Regions from separate parts of the Homo sapiens genome. Here region 1 is linked to region 2. Evidence: fine-mapped expression QTL. A gene starts in region 2. The other region holds a variant in brackets. All regions are shown on one strand. Distances are from middle to middle.

Evidence for each region. PIP is the estimated chance that this variant, and not a neighbour inherited with it, causes the effect.
Region 1: its variant is fine-mapped to the expression of EMC1 in tibial artery (GTEx, PIP 0.96).

Annotation. Positions count from the first base shown.
Region 1 is chr1:19,221,810-19,234,196 of GRCh38, forward strand. It overlaps EMC1 (ER membrane protein complex subunit 1), which reads right to left. Exons shown (of 23, transcript NM_015047.3): 14 at 11,127-11,326; 15 at 10,815-10,964; 16 at 9,452-9,613; 17 at 9,035-9,154; 18 at 5,504-5,641; 19 at 1,587-1,760; 20 at 815-1,025. The region is part of intron 1 of EMC1-AS1 (EMC1 antisense RNA 1); the gene reads left to right. Among named protein-coding and RNA genes, the nearest start is that of EMC1-AS1, 18 kb to the left of the region's middle. The variant G/T (reference allele first, on the strand shown) is at 7,291.
Region 2 is chr1:19,247,025-19,255,024 of GRCh38, forward strand. It overlaps EMC1 (ER membrane protein complex subunit 1), which reads right to left and starts at 4,500. Exons shown (of 23, transcript NM_015047.3): 1 at 4,391-4,500. The coding sequence starts at 4,485. MRTO4 (MRT4 homolog, ribosome maturation factor) reads left to right here and starts at 4,781. Exons shown (of 8, transcript NM_016183.4): 1 at 4,781-4,839; 2 at 7,758-7,816. The coding sequence starts at 4,812. RefSeq lists enhancers at 4,413-4,918, 6,735-7,236, 7,237-7,736 and a silencer at 7,028-7,173.

The DNA of each region.
Region 1 (12,387 bases), 23 kb before region 2:
TAATCCCAACACTTTGGGAGGCCAAGGCAGGCGGATCACTTGAGGTCAGGAGTTCAAGACCAGCCTGGCCAACATGGCGAAACCCCATCTCTACTAAAAATACAAAAATTAGCCGGGCGTGGTGGTGCACGCCTGTTAACTACTTGGGAGGCTGAGGAGGAGGATCACTTGAACCCAGGAGGCGGAGGTTGCAGTGAGCCAAGATCGTGCCACTGCACTCCAGCCTGGGCAATAGACCCTGCCAGTTTCTGCAAGCTGTCAGCACAGGCTAGCTATGTTAACAATGCTATCAGGAACTGACTTTTTGAGCTAGGTGAAAATGCCAAATAGAGAGGTGGTATATCAGAAATGAGGACTGAAGGCCAGGCAGCCAGGCACGATGGCTCACACCTGTAATCCCAACACTTCAGGAGGCCAAGGCAGGAGGATCACATGAGCCCAGGAGTCTAGATCAGCCTGGGCAACATGGCAAATCCCTGTCTCTACCAAAAAAAATTTTTTTAATTAGCCAGGTGAGCTCAGGAGGTTGAGGCTGCAGTGAGTCATGATCACACCACTGCACTCCAGCCTGGATGACAGAGTGAGACCCTGTCTCGAAAAACAAAAAAAAGATGAGAACTGAGAGAGAAGTGGTCACCTTCATAGGTGGCAAAGATGAACTAAGAAACTTTTTCCACCGATATATAGCCCTCCTCACCACCTTTCCCTTACAGGTGGTTCAACAAGGCTCTGCCAGCAATGTGTCCCTTGCTCTGTCCTTAAGTGTGGTTGCCCAAGGGAACCCAGCCATCCCAGAGGCTCCCCAGTCACTCACTCAGCAGGTGTCGGCTGGTGATGCCCCGTTCGGTGATGGTGGCCTCCATGGCACTGATGGAGGACGGGAAGATATAGGACTGCTGGAGGACCTGGGGCAGCTGGGGGCGGTCCAGGGAGCTGAAGGCGGTGGCGTTGTATTGCTCAGTGCCCTCATAGAGCTCCAGTACGGTAAACTCGTTGCGCCGAGCCTTGGTGTTCCAGTACTGGTACTGCAGGGATAGGAGGTGGCAGCTCAGGGCTTAGCAGCTGCTTCAACTGGAAAGGGAAATTGCACTGGAAGGCACCCCTCTAATTAGCTACAGATCCATGAAGGAGAACCATCAACTAGCACCTCACTTTTCTTCCTTACTATCAAGTTTACTAACTTTCAAAGTAGTTTTATCTAGGCTATCGAAAGTTCACCACAAAACAAAGGAAATTCTCAAGAGTCTTAGAAGCCATAATAGTAGCTAACCTTTGAATCATTACTAGGTGCCAGGCATTGTTCTTTGCTAGACTGAAGGTGACTGTTATTATCCCTATTTTAACAATGATGCAACACAGAGCGTGTACATAACTAGTTCAAGGTTATACAGTCAGGAAACGGAAGAGGTAAGATTAAACCTAGGCAATCTGATTCCTGAGCCCAGTGCCCTAACCGGCACGCTTTGCTGCCATCCAGGGAATTTGAGATCCTAAGAAAACCAAAGCAGCAACTGGGTTTCTGGAAAGGACTCAGGAGGCAGGGAGACCTCTGGAGCTACCTTGGGTCCCTGGTAGTGACCGCTTACCACCACCCAGTTCTCTGAATGCACGATATGGACAGGGCCTTTGGCTTTCTTCTGCACAGAGGAGTGAATGATACGCCCAGTGACGCCATCAATGAGGAAGATGCCAATAAAGGTGCGCTCATGGTGCGCGTCTGTGCTCTCTGTCACCACGGCCAGCAGGTTGGGGTTCAGGCTCTGGAGAGAGAGAGAAAACCTCCCTTAGAACCACGACGACTCATCACACACTCCATTCCTGTGCTGTGAGACCAACCTGGAGCTCTCCAGCCTGGCAGAGGAATCAGGGTTTCTGGTGAAAAGAGCTTCCTGTTTGGAATTTCTCATCACTGCACTTGTTTTATGTGCATTGGGTACTGGGTGCCATGCCAGGTACCTTGTATTTTATCTAATCCCTTAAACAGTCTTGCAGAGTAGCTATTATGGTCCACATTTTGCAGAAAAGTCCCAAAGTAGTTAAGCAGCTTTTCAAGTCACAGATAGCAAATGGTAACCCAAGACAAAATCCAGGTCTGCCCACTCATTGACCTAGGGACAAATGCTGCAGTGATATTTTTCTTCTGAGGGTCACCACCCCCCTCCCCATCGCTAAATCCAGTGGCTAAGTCTTGGCCCTCAACTTACTTGACCCACTAGTACCACGTGACGCAGGTGATCACTACCTCCTTGCGACATTTTCTCACCTGGCTTCCAGAACATCCCTGCCCAGCACTCCTTCTACTTTACTGGCCTCTCCTTCTCAGTCTCTTTTGGAGGTTCTTCCACATCTCCCCAGTTTCTTCATGGTGGAACACATCAGAAAGCTCTCAAGCCTTGAGCATTTCCGTCACACTTACCCTCGTGGTGATCTCAAGCCAATCTCATGGCTTGAACACCATTTATGGATGTTGGCAATGCCCAATGTATATATCCAAACCAGATACTCCTTTGAACTCCAGACTTCACTAAGAAATTATCTCAGTATCTTTTCTCAGATGTTTCATCTGAAACTTAACATGGCCCAAGCTGAACTGTTCTAACTCCTGCCTAAAATCTGCTCCTCTCTCCTCCCCAGCCAGTCACGACTCCATACATCAGTGGCTCAGACCTAAAGCCTCGAGTTATCCTTGACTCCTTTCTCTGTAACACACATATACCTGCTCTTGGCTCTACCTTCAAAAGTACCCAGAACCTGATCCCTCCTTCCCACCTCCATGCTACCAGCCCAGCTCCAGCCACCATCAGCACCTGGATGACCCCACAGCCTAAATGGTCTGCTTTCCTCCTCACCCCTCTACAGTCTAATCTAGGTCAAATGAGCCTGTGGAATCTCAGTCACTGATGTCACTCCTCTGCTGAAAACTTCCCAGTGGCTCTTCACCGTGCTCCAAAGTGAAGGCCACGGTGGTGGCCTGTGATCTGGCCCTGTTGCCCTCTGCCCTCAGCAGGCCTGACATGCCTCCTCACTCATCATCTTCTAGTTACCTGGTCTTCTTTGCTGTTTCTCACACATACCAGGAGCACTTTGACTTTTCTCTCTGGAAGGCTCTCCCCGCAGCTACCCACACAACTCACTTCCTCACTCAAGTCCACTCACTCCGTGCCACTTTCTCACTAAGCCCCTCCTTAGCCACCCGACTTACACTGTACCTGCTTTCCCTCTTCCCGGCTTTATTTTTCTCTATAGAACTGGTCACTTTCTAATATACTATCTAATTTACCTATTTATTTTCTTTATTATTAGCCTCACCCAACTATGATGAAAGCCTCACGAGGTCAGGAAGTTTTGTCTGTTTTGCCCATTTTATATCCCAGTGTCTAAATGAGTGCCTGCATCCAGCTAGCACTCAAAAACTGCTTGCTGCTGGCCGGGTGCGGTGGCTCATGCCTGTAATCCTAACACTTTGGGAGGCCAAGATGGGAGGATTGCTTGAGCCCAGGAGTTTAAGACCAATCTGAACAACACAGCAAGACCCCATCTCTAAAGAAAATAAAATAAGTGCCTGGGCACGGTGGCTCCCGCCTGTAATCCCAGCACTTAGGGAGGCCAAGGCGGGCAGATCACGAGATCAAGAGATCAAGACCATCCTGGCCAACATGGTGAAACCCCATCTCTAAAAATACAAAATTTAGCTGGGCATGGTGGTGCGCGCTTGTAGTCCCAGCTACTCGGGAGGCTGAGGCAGGAGAATCTCTTGAACCTGGGACGTGGAGGTTGCAGTGAGCCAAGATCGTGCCACTGCACTCCAGCCTGGTGAAAGAGCAAGACTCCATCTCAAAAAAAAAGAAAAGAAAGAAAAGAAAATAAGCCATGGTGACATGCACCTGTTGTCCCAGCTGCTTAGGAGGCTGAGATGGGAGGACTGCTTAAGCCCGGGAGGTCAAAGCTGCAGTGAGCTGTGATCACACCACTGCACTCCAGCCTGGGCAACATGGCAAGACCCTGTCTCAAAAAAAAAAAAAAAGAGTCAATAGCACTAATAATAATGTTAAGTATGTGGCAGGCACTATTCTAATCACTTTACATGTTATCATTAATCTTCAAAACAATCCTCTGACGTTGGTGCTATTATCCCCATTATACTGGGGAAAATTGAAGCTCAGGCAGCCTAAGAGATGAACAGCTAGGCCACGGCAGAGCCAAGTCTTAACAGTCAAACTAGAGGCTTGCACTGTGTTGCACTGGCTCATGCTTAGTGATCCAGCTTTACCGTCAAGTTCCGTGATCTCTATTCTATGACACCCCCTCCAATTCAGTCTCTGCTGTACCAGAGGGTGTAATTAATGTGCATTACTACTATCATTACATTCTCTCCCATAACAGTTTTGCAGCCCACTAGTCACCTTAATCTCCCTCTCTTTAACACTAACTAGAGTGTTGGATCACAGAGATGGAGTTTCTGATGGCTCGACTATGGTTTAACCCCAGAATGCTCTATCAGTACTACCACTAGTAATAAGAGCTGGGCTAGGCGCAGTGGCTCAAGTCTCTAACCTCAACACTTTGGGAGGCTAAGGTAAGAGAACTGCTTGAGGCCAGGAGATAGAGACCAACCTAGGCAACATAGTGAGACCCTGTCAATATAAAAATAAAAAATTAAAAAAAAATTTTTTTTTGAAGACAGGGTTTTACTATGTTTCCTAGGTTGATCTCTATCTTCTACAAAAATAAAAAATTTAAAAAAAATTTTTTTTGTTTGTTTGGAGACAGGGTCTCACTCTGTCACCCAGGCTGGAGTGCAGCGGCACAATTGCAGCTCACTGTAGCCTCAACCTCCCCAGGCTCAGGTGATCCTCCTACCTCAGCCTCCCGAGTAGCTGAGACCACAGGCATGCACCACCATGCCCAGCTAATTGTTTTTTTTGTTTTTTTTTTTTGGGGGTGGTAAAGACAAGGTTTCAGCCATGTTGCCCAAGCTGGCCTCAAACTCCTGGACTCAAGTAATCCACCCACCTCGACCTCTCAAAATGCTGGGATTACTGGCATGAGCCACCAAGCCCAGCCGTTTTTAAAAAATTAGCATGACATGTGCCTGTGGTTCCAATTACTTGGGAGACTGAGGTGAAAGGATTGCATAAGCCCAGGAGGACGAAGCTGCAGTGAGCCATGACTGCATCACTGCACTCCAGCCTGGGCAACAGAGCAAGACTCTGTCACAGGAAACAAACAAACAAAAAAAAAGTCAAAAAAATAAGAGCTAACATCTGTTGCTTACTTACCATATGCTAGGCACTGGGCTAGACATGAACATCCCATGTGATCATCACAACAAGCCCAGGAGGAGGGTATATTATCCCCATTTCACAAACAAAAATTAAGGCTCAAAGGGATTAAATGACTTACTCAAGGTCATATATGTACCAAGTCCTACAGCCAGACTTGAAGCCCTTGTTTTCCTGATTCGAAAGCCCTTGCTGTAGACCAGACAGCTGGCTGTATGTACCTTGTAGAGCACACTGCGGTCCCCCATCACACGGCCCTGGGAATGAACGTGCTCACTGCTGCGTTTCCCCTTCACCTTGACGATCCGCTGTACTTCTGGGGGAATGGTCAGCTCCCAACTCAGCTCAGTGGTGAGATCCTAGGGCAGGGGCAAAAAAGCCTGTAATCAGGAGGGTACACTTAGAACTGAAACAGCTGGAGTTAGACACATCCTACAGTTCATTATTTGAGGCCTTTGTGCAGGAAGGAATAGAGATCAGAACTAGAAAAATGAGCCAGGAGCAGTGGCTCATTCTTGTAATCCCAGCACTTTGGGAGGCCAAGGCGGGCGGATCACTTGAGGTCAGGAGTTCAAGACCAACCTGGCCAACATGGCCAAACCCCATCTCTACTAAACATACAAAAAATTAGCCAGATGTGGTGGCAGGCACCTATAATCCTAGCCACTCGGGAGGCTGAGGCAGAGGCTGCAGTGAGCTGAGATCACGCCACTGCACTCCAGCCTGAGTGACAGAGCAAGACTCAAAACAAAAAATAAACCAGAAAAACAGCAATAGAGATCTAGTTTATGAAGAAATTTCAGAACTCTCGGTTTGATTAAGATAGATACTAGACCGGGCGTGGTGGCTCACACCTGTAATCCCAGCACTTCGGGAGGCCGAGGCAGGTGGATCACCTGAGGTCGGGAGTTTGAGACCAGCCTGACCAACATAGAGAAACCACATCTCTACTAAAAATGCAAAATTAGCCGGGTGTGGTGGCGCATGCTTTTAATCCCAGGTACTCAGGAGGCTGAGGCAAGAGAATCACTTGAACCCAGGAGGTGGAGGTTGCAGTGAGCCGAGACTGCACCATTGCACTCCAGCCTGGGCAACAAGAGCGAAACTCCGGCTCAAAAAAAAAAAAAAAAAGATAATAAAGCCAGTAGGAAAGGAGGCGAACGCTCAATAGTATCCCGTTGTTTATCTGAGTAGGAAATATGCAAGGAAAATTTACCATTTATTACTAAACTCCAAGATCCCTGTATACTGGGGCCAGCAGTGAATGTCTAAGCTAACAGGGAGCTCAAAACATTTCGTGTATGATTGTTTATGGTCATAGGAAACCAACCAATAAACACTCATGGTTAAATACATTATTATACATCCATCCTATGGAATTATGCGGAGCCCTTGGGGGTGGAGACAGGAGGTAGTTACTGGCAAAGGGCACAAGGGCCTTCTAGGAGCTGGTGCTATTCTGTTTCCTGAAGTGGTCACCAGGTACACAAGTGTATTCCCTTGGTGAGGGTTCACTGAGCCATACCTCATGATTTTGCACTTTTGTCAATATTTTTCTGTAATAAAAAACTGAAGTTGACAAAACAATGAGGTAGAAAACCCATTAAATGAAAAAAAGCAAATTTCATAAGAATAAATATAGGTCAATTGCATGTGAATGAGAAAAAAAAATAAAATGGGCCGGGCGTGGTGGCTCACACCTGTAATCCCAGCACTTTCGGAGCCCGAGGCGGGAGGATCACTTGAGGTCAGGAGTTTGAGACCAGCCTGGTCAACATGGTGAAACCCCGTCTCTACTGAAAATACAAAAATTAGCCAGGCATGGTGGCGTGCACATGTAGTCTTGGGAAGCTGAGGCAGGAGAATCGCTTGAAACCAGGAGGCAGAGGTTGCAGTGAGCTGAGACTGCGCCCCTGCACTCCAGCCTGGGTGACAGAGCGAGACTCTGTCTCTAAAAAAAAATAAATAAAGTATGAGCCACACACGTGTGTCCACACAGCTGTTGATA[G/T]GGAATCATAAATACACAAGGACAGTAGAAAGAGGCACAGCAAACTGCTGACAGGCTTTCCACCTGGGGAGGGGAAGACCGCTGGGAATGGGGCTACAAGGGTCTGTTCACATTTTGCTTGTTCACCTCTCTGTATCAATGGACTCTTTTACAATGAGAATATACTCAATGTATTACCTAAATTTTTAAAATAGTGAAAATTATTAATAATAAGCCTTCATTGCCACAACCTTCTTTGAAAACATAAGAACTCACTAAAACATCCCCAGAGAGGAAGGTCACCAAGTGAGGGCAAAGGCAGCACACTCCCTTGTGGTCCCGGACTCGCGCACACAGCTGGCTCACTTCCCACAGACAGCTCTGCCTCCTTTGTCTTCCTTGGTCATTGTTCACTCAGATGATGTCCTCAGGACTCCAGATTCATGACACCCACACTCCAGTTCACTCCCCTGAATCTACAAAACTGTCTCTTTCAAGGTCCTCTTTTTATTAACTCAGAAGGATGATTTTATTTATTTATGTTTTCATTCACAAGGGTAAAGGATGTGTCTTCTGGGCAGACCATTTCCAGTGCTGTTTATGCTAAGGTTAGCTGTTACAAATGTCACAAAAGGGCGCTGCATTTTCAAAACAACAGCACCTCCAACTCAGATGGCATTTACCATGTGCCAGGCAGTTTTATGTGATTTATGTGTTGAATTCTCACAACAACCTTATGAGACAGGTACTTATCACCTTATTTTACAGATAAGAAAACAGAAGACCAGAGCCCAAGGTCACAAAGTTAGTAAGTGACAAACCTAGACTTCCAATCTAGCAAATTGGTTAAACTCTATGCCTCTCAAAAGGCCTTACAGGACAGGATGGGAGAGCTGTTTGTGAGTACACACCACAGAGTACTTCTCCAAACAGTCCTGCTAACAAGGCCATGCCAGCCCCTCGTGAACTTCAGAGCTGGACTTCACAGCCAGCGTGTATTACTGTTTACAAGAGTTGGTCTCAAGTATGTGAGGATTAAAGCAAACTGACCCCCTTTCTAGAAATAAAATTCAAAGCACACATTCCATCACGAGTTGGTCAACATCATCTTCATATAAAAGTACAACTTATTACTCAACCCACATTCCTACCTTCTACCCTCCCAAGAATGGAAAAAAAGTCCCATCTCTCTGCTATAGAAAAATAATGGGGCCAGGCGCGGTGGCTCACGCCTGTAATCCCAGCACTTTGGGAGGCTGAGGCAGGTGGATCACAAGGTCAGGAGTTTGAGACCATCCTGGCCAACACAGCAAAGCCCTGTCTCTACTAAAAATACAAAAAATTAGCCGGGCGCGGTGGCGCACGCCTGTAATCCCAGCTACTTGGGTGTCTGAGGCAGGAGAATCGCTTGAACCAAGGAGGCAGAGGTTGCAGTGAGCCGAGATCGCACCACTGCACTCCAGCCCGGGCGACAGTGCAAGACTCCATCTCAAAAAAAAAAAGAAAAAGAATGTGGAATGAAAGCTCCACAAGGGCAGAGATTTGTTCTACTGTGCACCACTCCATCCACAGCACCTAGAACCGTATCTGCCATGTAGTAGCTGCCCAACAAATATGAACAAATGATTGACTTTGTATCAGACATCAGGATTATGCTAATCTAAGTTTACAGTAGAATGAGTAGCATAATTCACTTCTTAGCCAAATGGCCAGGAAACACCTGCATCTCATCCACAAAGGGTTGTGCCAGGACATGCCTTCCTACCTTTCGAAGCCGATATCCACACAGCCGTCCCTGCTCTGCATCCACCAAATAGAAGAAGATGGAAGGGGCAAGCTCATGTAGCTGTCGCAAGACATTCCGAGTGGCTGGAAAAGCTGTGACCTTGAAAAACCCAGAGAGCCCAAGGAAAGAGTTAGGAAATTTCCCCATCAAAGAGAGCCTTAAGAATAAAACTGCAAATCAGTTGATTTGAACTCAGTTTAGGGTTTACATTCAGTTCTGTTAAGAACCTGAGTTTTCACAAATGCAGACACAGCCATCATTTCTCTTCGGGATGGCCTTAGAGCCCAAACACGTGCTGGGTGCAGAGAGCACTCCATCTCCGGGCCGCTGTGTTTGACCACCTGGCCCCAAACCGGACTCCGCTAGCATGTTCTCCATCCCCTCTGAAGACAGTACCTTGTATTCATCATCTATCAACAGCAACACCTTGGCGTAGTCTTGATCCATGACTGGGAGAAGCAAGGACTGCAAGATGGGGCGCTTCAGCACTGGGGGAGCTACCTGACTCCACTTCCCAAAAATGGGATTGAAGACATACAGAGAACTCATTCCCGACTCCTAAAATGAGCAAACTGTCAGGCTCCACCAACAAGAAAAGACTGCAAATCCTAGGGATAGACCTGAAGAGCTGGGACTCCAGCTCAACAACTGTGGGGGTTCTCTAGTCTTTGCCCTCTTTGTGGAAAATAAGTTCTTGGCTGTAGGTGAATAGTCCCCTAGGCTAACGTCACAAAGAAAAAAGTCAAACTGTCTCTGCCAGTTCTTTTTCGTTTGAGACAGGGTCTCTCTCTATCACCCAAGCTGGAAGTACAGTGGCATGATCAAGGCTCACTGCAACCTCTGCCTCCCAGGTTCAAGTGATCCTCCCACCTCAACCTCCCAAGTAGCTGGGACTACAGGCACAAACCACCACACGTGGCTAATTCTGTTTTTATTTTTTGTAGAGAGGGGTTTCACCATGTTGCCCAGGCTGGTCTCGAACTCCTGGACTCAAGCAATCCGCCCTCCTTGGCCTCCCAAAGTGCTGAGATTATAAGCGTGAGCCACCGCGCCTGGCTGCTCTGCCAGTTCTAAACAAGAACTAATAAAAAAGTCAAGTAACAATTCAGCAACCTGGCCGGGCGTGGTGGCTCACACCTGTAATCCCAGTACTTTGGGAGGCCGAGGCAGGTGGATCATCTAAGGTCAGGAGTTTGAGACCAGCCTGGCCAACATGGTGAGACCCTGTCTCTACTAAACATACAAAAATCAGCCGGGCATGATGGCGTGTGCCTGTAATCCCAGCTACTCGGGAGGCTGAGGCACAAGAATTGCTTGAACCTGGGAGGTGGAGGCTGCAGTGAGCCGAGATCGCACCAGGCAGCCGTTCCAGGAAAGTGTCTACCAAGCCCGCCTTCTATGCTAGAATGAATACACAAAAATCCATTCTAATTCTGGGAAGACACAAAAATATCTTTGTGTCCTGCTCTTCCTCAAAGAGAGAAGAGAAAATAGCCACTCAGCAACCAACAGCCAATGTTTAGAAAAGAGGAGAGCTGGCTCCCTACATAGCTGGTGAAGTCACACCCACTTTCTAAACAATTCCACATCAGTGCTGGATGGTTCCTCCACCCATGCATGAAACTAGAAGAAACAGAGTTCTAACCCCTGAATGTTCCTCATTAACTCACACAATTCCAAGGGCCTAGGAGCAATTTAAGTTACAAAATAGCAAAAAAGCCACACTGAGTCTGGCTCAAGTCAGAGCTGGATGCCTCACCTTGTCCTTCACCAGCAGGGTGCACTGTGGGGGATGGGGGAAATGAGCAGTAGTTCTCTGGACCATCAGTTTAAAGGAGGAGTCTGGCTTGACATTGGGTAGATACTGTTTCCACAGGATGGTGCCAGAGCTGCTCTCAATGCCAAAAAGCTGCAAGATAAACAAATACTTGGCTCACTACTAGAAAGAGAAACCAAAGAACTGAGTCTGTCCTTGAAAACTAGAACCAGTGTTATCCCTCACTGAAGGCTTTTTGTTCCTCACCCTCAGAATTTGAAAAGGTTCAGTAACTGGAGCTTAAACCCCACTCACCTTGCCTGAGGCTGTTACCATCACCATCATCTTCTGGAGGTTGAATTCATCTCTGGCCAGGGTGTCAATGTTGATCTCATTCTTAATCTGACTCCGGGGCTTCCGAGCATCATAAAACATTTTCCAGAGGTGGGAAGTCCATGCTTGCAGCAGGATAAGCTGAGACGAGAGGCGTTTCAGGAACATCCCCAGCAAGCCATCTGGTGTAAAGGAAAAGTAACATACTCTACATCAGACTAGGGGTCCATAAGGAGGTACATGATTTTCCTAATGAGGGATCTCTGCCTCTCCTCTGGAGCAATAAAGTCCACACTCTAGGCCACAAGCCCAAAGGGCAGTCCTGTATCTGATGCCCAAAGTCTCACACTCAGGTGAGGCTCATGCAGGAGCTTCCAAAAACTGCTTAACTGGCTCTTAACAACTAAACCCAGCTGGAATCTTGGAATAGGAGACTAAGAGGTCAGGGATCAGGCATGCAGGAGACAGCCATGCTGTGAATGTCTCCACCACAGCCCCACATCCAAGATGCTAAAAGAAGGTTTCTGGGTGCCATGACAAAGCCAGAAGAGGTATGAGTGTGGGGGTGGAGGGTGCAGGTCAGTGAATATGTATCATGAGCAGGTACTTCCATCTCCCATTGCTTCATTCCTACTTTGTCAGCTGTTTAACCTGCACCCAACAGACGTACTTGCAACGAGTTCCCAGGACCATCATTCACTCTTTCCCTGATTCCGTCAATGAAGCCACTGCCCTCCAAATCTCCTCCATTGGAGACCACAGATTTGTAAACAGATGCAAGGAAGCAAGGTAAAGAGCATGGTCTCTGGAATCTAGCAGGCCCAGATTAAGATCCCAGCTTCACCACTCACTGCGGGGTAACACTGAGAAATGTACTTCACCTTTTTGCTTCTGGTTCCTCATCTGTAAAGTGGCATGTAACCCACTGGACTGTTCCAAAATTACATCATACGATGTACATAAAGGATTTAGCGTGGTGGCTGGTACATGGTAATAACTCACTAAAAAAGGAGCAGAACCTCTGCTTATCTTATTTTCCACCCACCTCTGCTCAAGGAAGAGAAGTGAGAAGCAACAGGACAACTCACAAGCATGGCAGTCAACACACACACACACACACCCCAAGGATGTACCTCATTGGTCCAAGTTAGGAAGAAAAACAATTAACCAAAAGCTAGCCATGTGAGCAGGCAACGAGCAACAAGGCAGCAAGAAGCAGGTTTTACCTTGAATTGCTGGATCC
Region 2 (8,000 bases):
AGAAGGCAGCCTTTTGCAAGCCAATGAGCGAGGCCTCAGAGGAAACAAAACCTGCCAATGCCTTGATCTTGAATTTCCAGCCTCCAGAACTGTGAGAATATCAATTTCTATTGTTTAAGCCACCTAGTCTATGGTATTTCATTATAGCAGCCTGAGAAAACTAATACAACCACCACTATAGATACACTTTTTATTATTTGAGATGGGATCTCACTGTGCTGCCTAGGCTGGATTGAACTCCTGGGCTCAAGTAATACTCCCATCTCAGCCTCCCAAGTAGCTGGGATTTCAGGTGCATGCCATTGTGCCCAGCTTTGTACATATACTTTTAACGTTTTACTATACAGTCATGCACTGCAAAACAATGTTTCAGTCAATGATTGATCGCATATACAGCATATACAGTGGTGGTCACACAAGAGTATAATGGAGCTGAAAAATTCCTATAACCTAGTAACATTGTAGCTGCTATAACATTGTAGTCGAATGCATTAATCACGTTTGCGGTGAAGGTGGTGTAAACAAACCCACTGTACTGCCAGCTGTATAAAAGTACAGCATATTCAATAATGTATACTACATAATACTTGACAATGATAATAAATGACTGTGTTACTGGTTTACGTATCTACTTTTTATGGTTAGAGTACTCCTTCTACTTATTAAAAGAAAATTAACTGTAAAATAGTCTCATGCAGGTGCTTCAAGAGGTATTCCAAGCTGGCCGCAGTGGCTCATGCCTATAATCCCAGCACTTTGGGAGGCGGAGGCGAGCAGATCACCTGAGGTCAGGAGTTCAAGAACAGCCTGGCCAACATGGTGAAACCCCATTTCTACTAAAAATACAAAAATTAGCCAGGCATAGTGCTGTGCACCACAGTCCCAGCTACTTGGGAGGCTGAGACATGAGAATCACTTGAACCCGGGAGGTGGAGGTTGTAGTGAGCTGAGATCATGCCACTTCACTCCAGGCTGAGCGACAGAGTAAGACTCTGTCCCAAAAAAAAAAAGAGGTATTCCAGAAACAGGCATTGTTATCACAGATGATAGCTCCATGGGTGTTACTGCTCCTGAAAACCTGCCAGTAAGACAGTATGTGGAGGTGGAAGACAGTGATATTGATGATCCTGACCCTATTTAGGCCCAGGCTAATGTGTTTGTGTCTTAGTTTGTTTTTTGTTTGCTTGTTTTTTGAGATGCTCTTACTCTGTCACCCAGACTGGAGTACAGAGGCACCATCACAGCTCACTACAGCCACGACCTCCCAGGCTTAGGTGATCCTCCCACCTCAGCCTCCCGAGTAGCTGGGACTACAGGCACCCACCACCATGCCCGGCTAATTTTTGTATGCTTTGCAGAAATGGGGTTTCGCCATATTGCCCAACCTGTTTTTTGTTTTGTTTTGTTTTGTTTCTGAGATGGAGTCTCGCTCTGTTGCCAGGCTGAGTGCAGTGGCGTGATCTCAACTCACTGCAACCTCCGTCTCCCAGGTTCAAGTAATTCTCCTGCCTCAGCCTCCCAAGTAGCTGGGACTACAGGCGTGTGCCACCACGCCCAGCTAATTTTCGTATTTTTAGGAGAGACGGGGTTTCACCATGTTGGCCACGATGGTCTTGACCTCTTGACTTCGTGATCCACCCGCCTCGGCCTCCCAAAGTGCTGGGATTATAGGCGTGAGCCACCACGCCCAGCCCCAAGCTGGTCTTGAACTCCTGGACTCAAGCCATCCACCCACCTCAGCCTCCCAAAGTGCTAGGATTACAGATGTTAGCCACTGCGCCCGGCCTGTGTCTTAGTTTTTAACAAAATAGTTTAAGACTGAAAAAAAAAATTTTAGTATTGTAGGAAAAAGCTTATAGAATAAAGATATAAGAAAAATATTATTAAGTCAGGCATGGTAGCATATGCCTGTAATCCCAGTTGCTAGGGAGGCTGAGGCAGGAGGCTTGCTTGAGTCCAGGAGTTCAATATCTGCCTGGGGAACATAGCAAGATCCCATGTCAAAAATAAATTTTAAAAATATATTTTTGTACAGCTGTAAAGTCTGTGTTTTATACTAAGTATTATTACAAAAGTCAAAAATTAAAAAAATAAAATGTTTGTAAAGTAAAAAAGTTACATTAAGCTAAGGTTAACTTATTATTGAAGAAATTTTATAAATTTAGTATAGTCTAAATGCACAGTATTTATAAAGTCCACAGTAGTGTACAGTAATGTCCTAAGCCTTTACATTTACTCACCAACCACTTACTGACTAACCCCAGAACAACTCCTAGTTCTGCAAGATACATTCATGTTAAGTGCCCTATACCAGTGTACCATTTTTTATCTTTCATATCCTATTTTTACCATACATTTTCTATGTTTAGATACACAAATATTTACCATTGTGTTACAATTGCCTACAGTTTTCAGTAAAGTAACATGCCGTACAGGTTTGTAGCCTAGGAAGAATAGGCTGTACCATATAGCCTAGGTGTGTAGTAGGCTAAACCATCTAGATTTACATAAGTACATGCTACAACGTTTGCACAAGAGGGCATTTCTCAGGATGTATTCCCATCATTAAGTGATGCATACCTGTATGTCTTCATTTATTTTTCAATCTGAAAACTGTAGGCCAGGTGCAGTGGCTCACACCTGTAATCCCAGCACTTTGGGAGGCCGAGGCAGCCAGATTGCTTGAGCCCAGGTGTTCAAGACCAGCCTGGGCAACATGGCAAAACCCCGTCTCTACAAAAAATACAAAGAAACTGGAGAGGTGTGCACCAGTAGTCCCAGCTACTCAGGAGGCTGAGCTGGGAGGGTCACTTGAACCTGCAAGGTCAAAGCTGCAGTGAGCCATGATAGTACTGTACTCCAGCCTGGGCTACAGAATGAGTCCCTGTCTCAAAAAATTTTAAAAAGTCTTGGCTGGGCGCAGTGGCTCCCACCTGTAATTCCAACACTTTGGGAGGCCTAGGCGGGTGGATTACCTGAGATCGGGAGTTTGAGACCAGCCTGACCAACATGGAGAAACCCTGTCTCTACCAAAAATACAAAAATTAGCTGGGTGTGGTGGCGCATGCCTGTAATCCCAGCTACTCGGGAGGCTGAGGCAGGAGAATCGCTTGAACCCCAGAGGCGGAGGTTGTGGTGAGCCATGAGATCGCGCCATTACACTCCAGCCTGGGCAACAAGAGCAAAACTGTCTCAAAAAAAAAAAAAAAAAAAAAAAAAAAAAGTCTTAAACAGAGTCCTTTTCCCCCCTCATCAGCCTAACCTGGCCCTGGGCTCAGAGCAGAGCTGCCCAAGACACTAAGCAGTTAGGAAATGCCATTCATTCATTCATTCATTCATGAAAATAAAATTAAGAAAATTGCATATATCAAGTATTCTGCAAAATTAGATACACATATCACCCGATATATATGTGTAACATACACATATGACATTGTGAACAGTTGTGCACATCATTAAAAATGTAACATGTTTTATTTGTCACACTGTCTGGCATAACAGGTACTCAACATATATGCGAATCAACTTTTCCAAGACAGAAAATACTTCAGAGGAGGAGAAATCTGACCTGGGCCCTGAAGAATAAAGTGTAAATAGCAATAATAACAGATAACGCTTAATGACTGCATTCAATGAGCCAGGCATTGTGCTAAGTAATTTAATGGGATTGTCTCATTCATTCTCACAAGTACTGTAAGAGATAACGGACTGTTAGTAAACCCATTCTACAGACAAAGAAACCAAGGCACAGAGTGGTTAAGTCACTTTCCCCAAGATCACACAAGTCTTAACTAGTAAAATTCAAACAAAAGCAAGCTACTCCAGGGCCTTAAGGAAGACGTGGGTGGGTGAATGAATGAATGAGTGAATGGCATATTCTAGCTGCTTAGTGTTTTGGGCAATCCTGCTGTGAGCCCAGGGCCAGACTAGGTTGATGAGAGGGGAAAAGGACTCAGTTTAGGACTTTTAAGACGAAAGCTCCTGTTCACTTGCCTACAAGACACCAATTCGAGTAGGAATTAAAGTTCACTGACAGCTTGGCGACCTCTGACACCTGGTAGACCAGAAACCTCACAGTCAAAAAAATCGAACCTGACGAGGGAGGACGGGATCAGTGATCTCTGACCGGCACCCCAAGCATTCCTGGATGGCAGGGCCGGCTTACACGCAAGGATCAGCTTAGAATGACCCCTAACACTTGGTTTAAGGCTCTGCTTCCAACGACTTTAAATCCTTAATAATTTTTTAACAAGGGGCCCCACGTTTTCATTTTGTACTGGGTCCTGCAAATTATGCGGCCAATCCTGTTAAGTGACAACCTTTAGCAGGTAGGAGACAGGTACTGGGGAAACAGCCACTTATCTCTCGAATATGTTCCACACGTACGCACCAATCAAACTTGCCCACTTGGTCTTCGTAGACCGCGGCCGCAGGAATCAGCAGCGTAGCCCAAAGCCAGAAACGAGAAGCCCACTCAGCCGCCATGATGCGAGCGCATGCACCACCCACCGCCGTCCCGGCATGCACCGCGCCGCGGGCTCCGCCTCCGCGGGACCACAGAGCTGGGATAGCGCGCGAGGCCCTCGGTCGGACGGGACGCTCGGGATTCAGGGACTGCCTCGGCACACGGGAAGTTGCCCTACAGGCGCGGGAGAAAGCGCAGGCGGCGGCTTGGCAGGGAGAGGCAGGCTGCAGTGCACATTGGGTCAGGCACACGCGAGGGGCAGCCCCCGAGGGCCGTCCCAGAGTCCCCCGCGCCGCCGGGGTCCTAACGGGGTGCACCGTCTTCCGCCGCACGTGGATTCAGCGCGATGCCCAAATCCAAGCGCGACAAGAAAGGTGGGCGAAGGGGGAGTCGGGACCCTGGGGGGAGCTCCGTGGGCTGGCTACCCAGCCTGCGGTGAGGGCTTCGGGGCGGCGGGGGCGCAGATTGGAACGCCAGGACATCCTCGAGGTGTTCCGCTGCCTCGCTGCGAGCTGGAATGGGGGCTTCGGGGCTGTAAAACCGCCAGAGGTGGCTGACGCCCGGTCGGGTCTGGGGAGCGGAGACTCGTTTTGCCTAGTTTCAGGTGCTCTTGCAAGGCCAACTGGGTCGGGAGGCAGCTCCTGAACACCGCCCCCGGCTATGCCTGCTGCCGTTTCGGCCCACTTTTCCCAACTTCGGCCCTTTCTCATCTTCCTGCGCTCCCGCCACCCTGGCTGCCTTTCCCTTCTTTCAGCACAGGTTTGTTCCCGTGTCTGGCGTTGTGTGTCTGCGGTTGTTTCTGCCTGGCATGCTTACATCTTCGTATGGTTTGCGCCTTCTTAGTTGTCAGTTAATAGGATCCCTCTGAGACAGGGTCTCGCTCTGTTGCCCAGGCTGGAGTGCAGTGGCGCGATCGTAACACTGCAGGCCGGATGCGGTGGCTCACGCCTGTAATCCCAGCACTCTGGGAGGCCGAGGCGGGCGAATCATCTGAGGTCGGGAGTTCCCGACCAGCCTGGCCAATATGGTGAAACCCCTTTTCTACTAAAAATACTAAAAATTAGATGGGCATGGTGGCAGGTGCCTGTAATCCCAGCTACTTGGGAGACTGAGGCGGGAGAATCGCTTGAATCCGGGAGGCGGAGGTTGCAATGAGCCGAGATCGCTCCACTGTACTGCAGCCTGGGCACGACAGAGCGAGACTCCGTCTCAAAAATAAATAAATAAAATAAGTCACTGCAGCCTTGACCTCCTTGGCTTAAGCGATCCTCCCACCTCAACCTCCCGAGTAGCTGAGACTACAGGCGCACGCCACCACACCCAGCTAGGTTTTTTTTGTTTATTTTTTATAGAGAAGACTCAGTGTGTTGCCAAGCTGGTCTCGAACACCTGGGCTCCAACCACCCTCCCTGAGTGCTGGGATTACAGGCGTGAGCCACTACACCCGACTTGCGCACCTCTTAAGAGACCGTTTTTGACCACCTTTGCTGTGGTGGCCTCTCTCTTAACCCGGCTCCCTGGAATATTCAAAAATATTTAGGGGTCTGGCACTTTCTAGGCGTTAGAGGATACAGCAGTCACAAGGAAAGCCTATTTCTTATCGAGCCTAACGTTTTAGGAGAAACATATTCCGCAAAATGCTAAAAATCAGATTGAAAATGGGGTGAAGAGATGTTGATATTTTGTATAGTGTGGTCGGGAAAGGTCTCACTGATGAAGTGACAAATGAGCAGAAAATAAAGAAAGGAAGCGAGCAACCTGTGGAATTGAGCAGCTGTGGAATTATCTGGGAGAATGCTGTTCCAAGTAGAGGGAACCTGAAGTGAAAAGGCTCTGAAATGGGAGCAGATATGACGTGTTTGGGACAAGAGGCCAGTGAGGCTGGAGCAGAAGGAGCCAAATAGAGTTTGGGGAGGGAGTTAGGCAGAGAGGGCAGGACTTCCTCGGCCTTGGCAAGGCATTGGCTTTCCTGCCCAGGTGAAGTGAGTAGCAGAGGACCCATGTGATTTACCTTTACTTATGAAGGGTCACTCTGGTTGCCTTGGTGAGAATAGTTGGGGAAGACAGGGCAGAGGGCAGGAATGGAAGCAGTGAGACCAGCATTAATCCAAGACAGGGTGATGCTGGCTTGAGCCAAAGGTATAACAGTGGAAATGATGGGAAGTGGCCCGCTATATTTCGTTTGCCCTCCTCTGCTCCACTTACCATTGACTGATGTCATTGTCTTTGTCTGTGTGGTACCTAGTTAAGAGGGGCTGAGTGCGGGCAGGTTAAAGAAGAGAGGCCTGGGTCCCTTTGTGAAGGCGCCCGGGGCTTTGCAGTTGGAGTTCTGTTAAGTGTTTCTGGAACGATTTGATTCTGTGGAGGGGCCTGGGTCAGGTCTGGCAAATGCCAAACTCTGTGGGTAGAGGGCAAATTGGGCCCCAGCCATTTTTACAGTAGAGGTACATGTTCCTCCCCAGAGAGGTGTTGCTGCGTCTTTGGGTCCAAATTGCAATACTGGGGTGCAGATACATACCAGGAGATTCAGTCCCCAGCCTCATGGTTGCACAGCATAGGCCAGCTAGAGTGGCCTCTGCATCATGGTCAAGAGCAGCAAGGGGCCAGGCATGGTGGCTCACACCTATGATTCCAACACTTTGGGAGACTGAGGTAGGCAGATCTCTTGAGCCCAGGAGTTCGAGACCAACCTGGGCAACATGGCAAAAGCCATCTCTGCAAAAAATACAAAACTCACCTGGGCATGGTGGTGCATTTCTGTGGTCCCAGCCAAAATTAGCAGGCCATGGTGGTGTGTGCCTGTAGTCCTGTGTGGGAGGATTGCCTGAGCCTAGGAGCTCAAAGTTGCAGTGAGCCCAGATCGTGCCATTGCAGTCCAGCCTGGGTGACAGAGTGAGACCCCATGTCAAAAAAAAAACAAAAAACAGGGGCCTGCCTCAGCCAGCAGGTGAGGTCTGCCACTGAGAGCACTTCTAGCAGCAGGAACAGCCTCCACCCCCACACTGCAATCAAGTTTTTTGGGTCAGCCTTAGGAGCTAAGAAAGGCCTAGTTTGTCTAAATAGCAGGAGTTATATCCAGGGATCTTCAGGCCCAGGAATGCTAATGAGTAGGCATTCCATGGGCCCTGGGAATGGCTTTGTGTGCCAGAAATGATGGCCACAAAGGCCTTGCTGCCTTTTTTCAGAATGGCTGCATCCAGCTGAGTGCTCTCTGCCAAAGGGGAGAAGAAAATAAGTCTCCAGTGCATTTAGATTGGTCTCTCATCATCTCTCTCCTTTTTGTTTTTATTAGTCTCCTTAACCAAAACTGCCAAGAAAGGCTTGGAATTGAAACAAAACCTGATAGAAGAGGTAAGAGGTTGTTCTTTTCTAGAGCTTGCAATTGTTTGGTTTATAAAGGTAGGTATAGGACTGTTGGCCAGGGATAGGACTGTTGGCCAGGGGAACATACTAGTGGGGAAAAAAAAAAAATCTCCAAGCTGCCAATCCAGGCCTTTTTCCTCCAGCAGCAGCACCAGCAAAAACTTCCATAGTG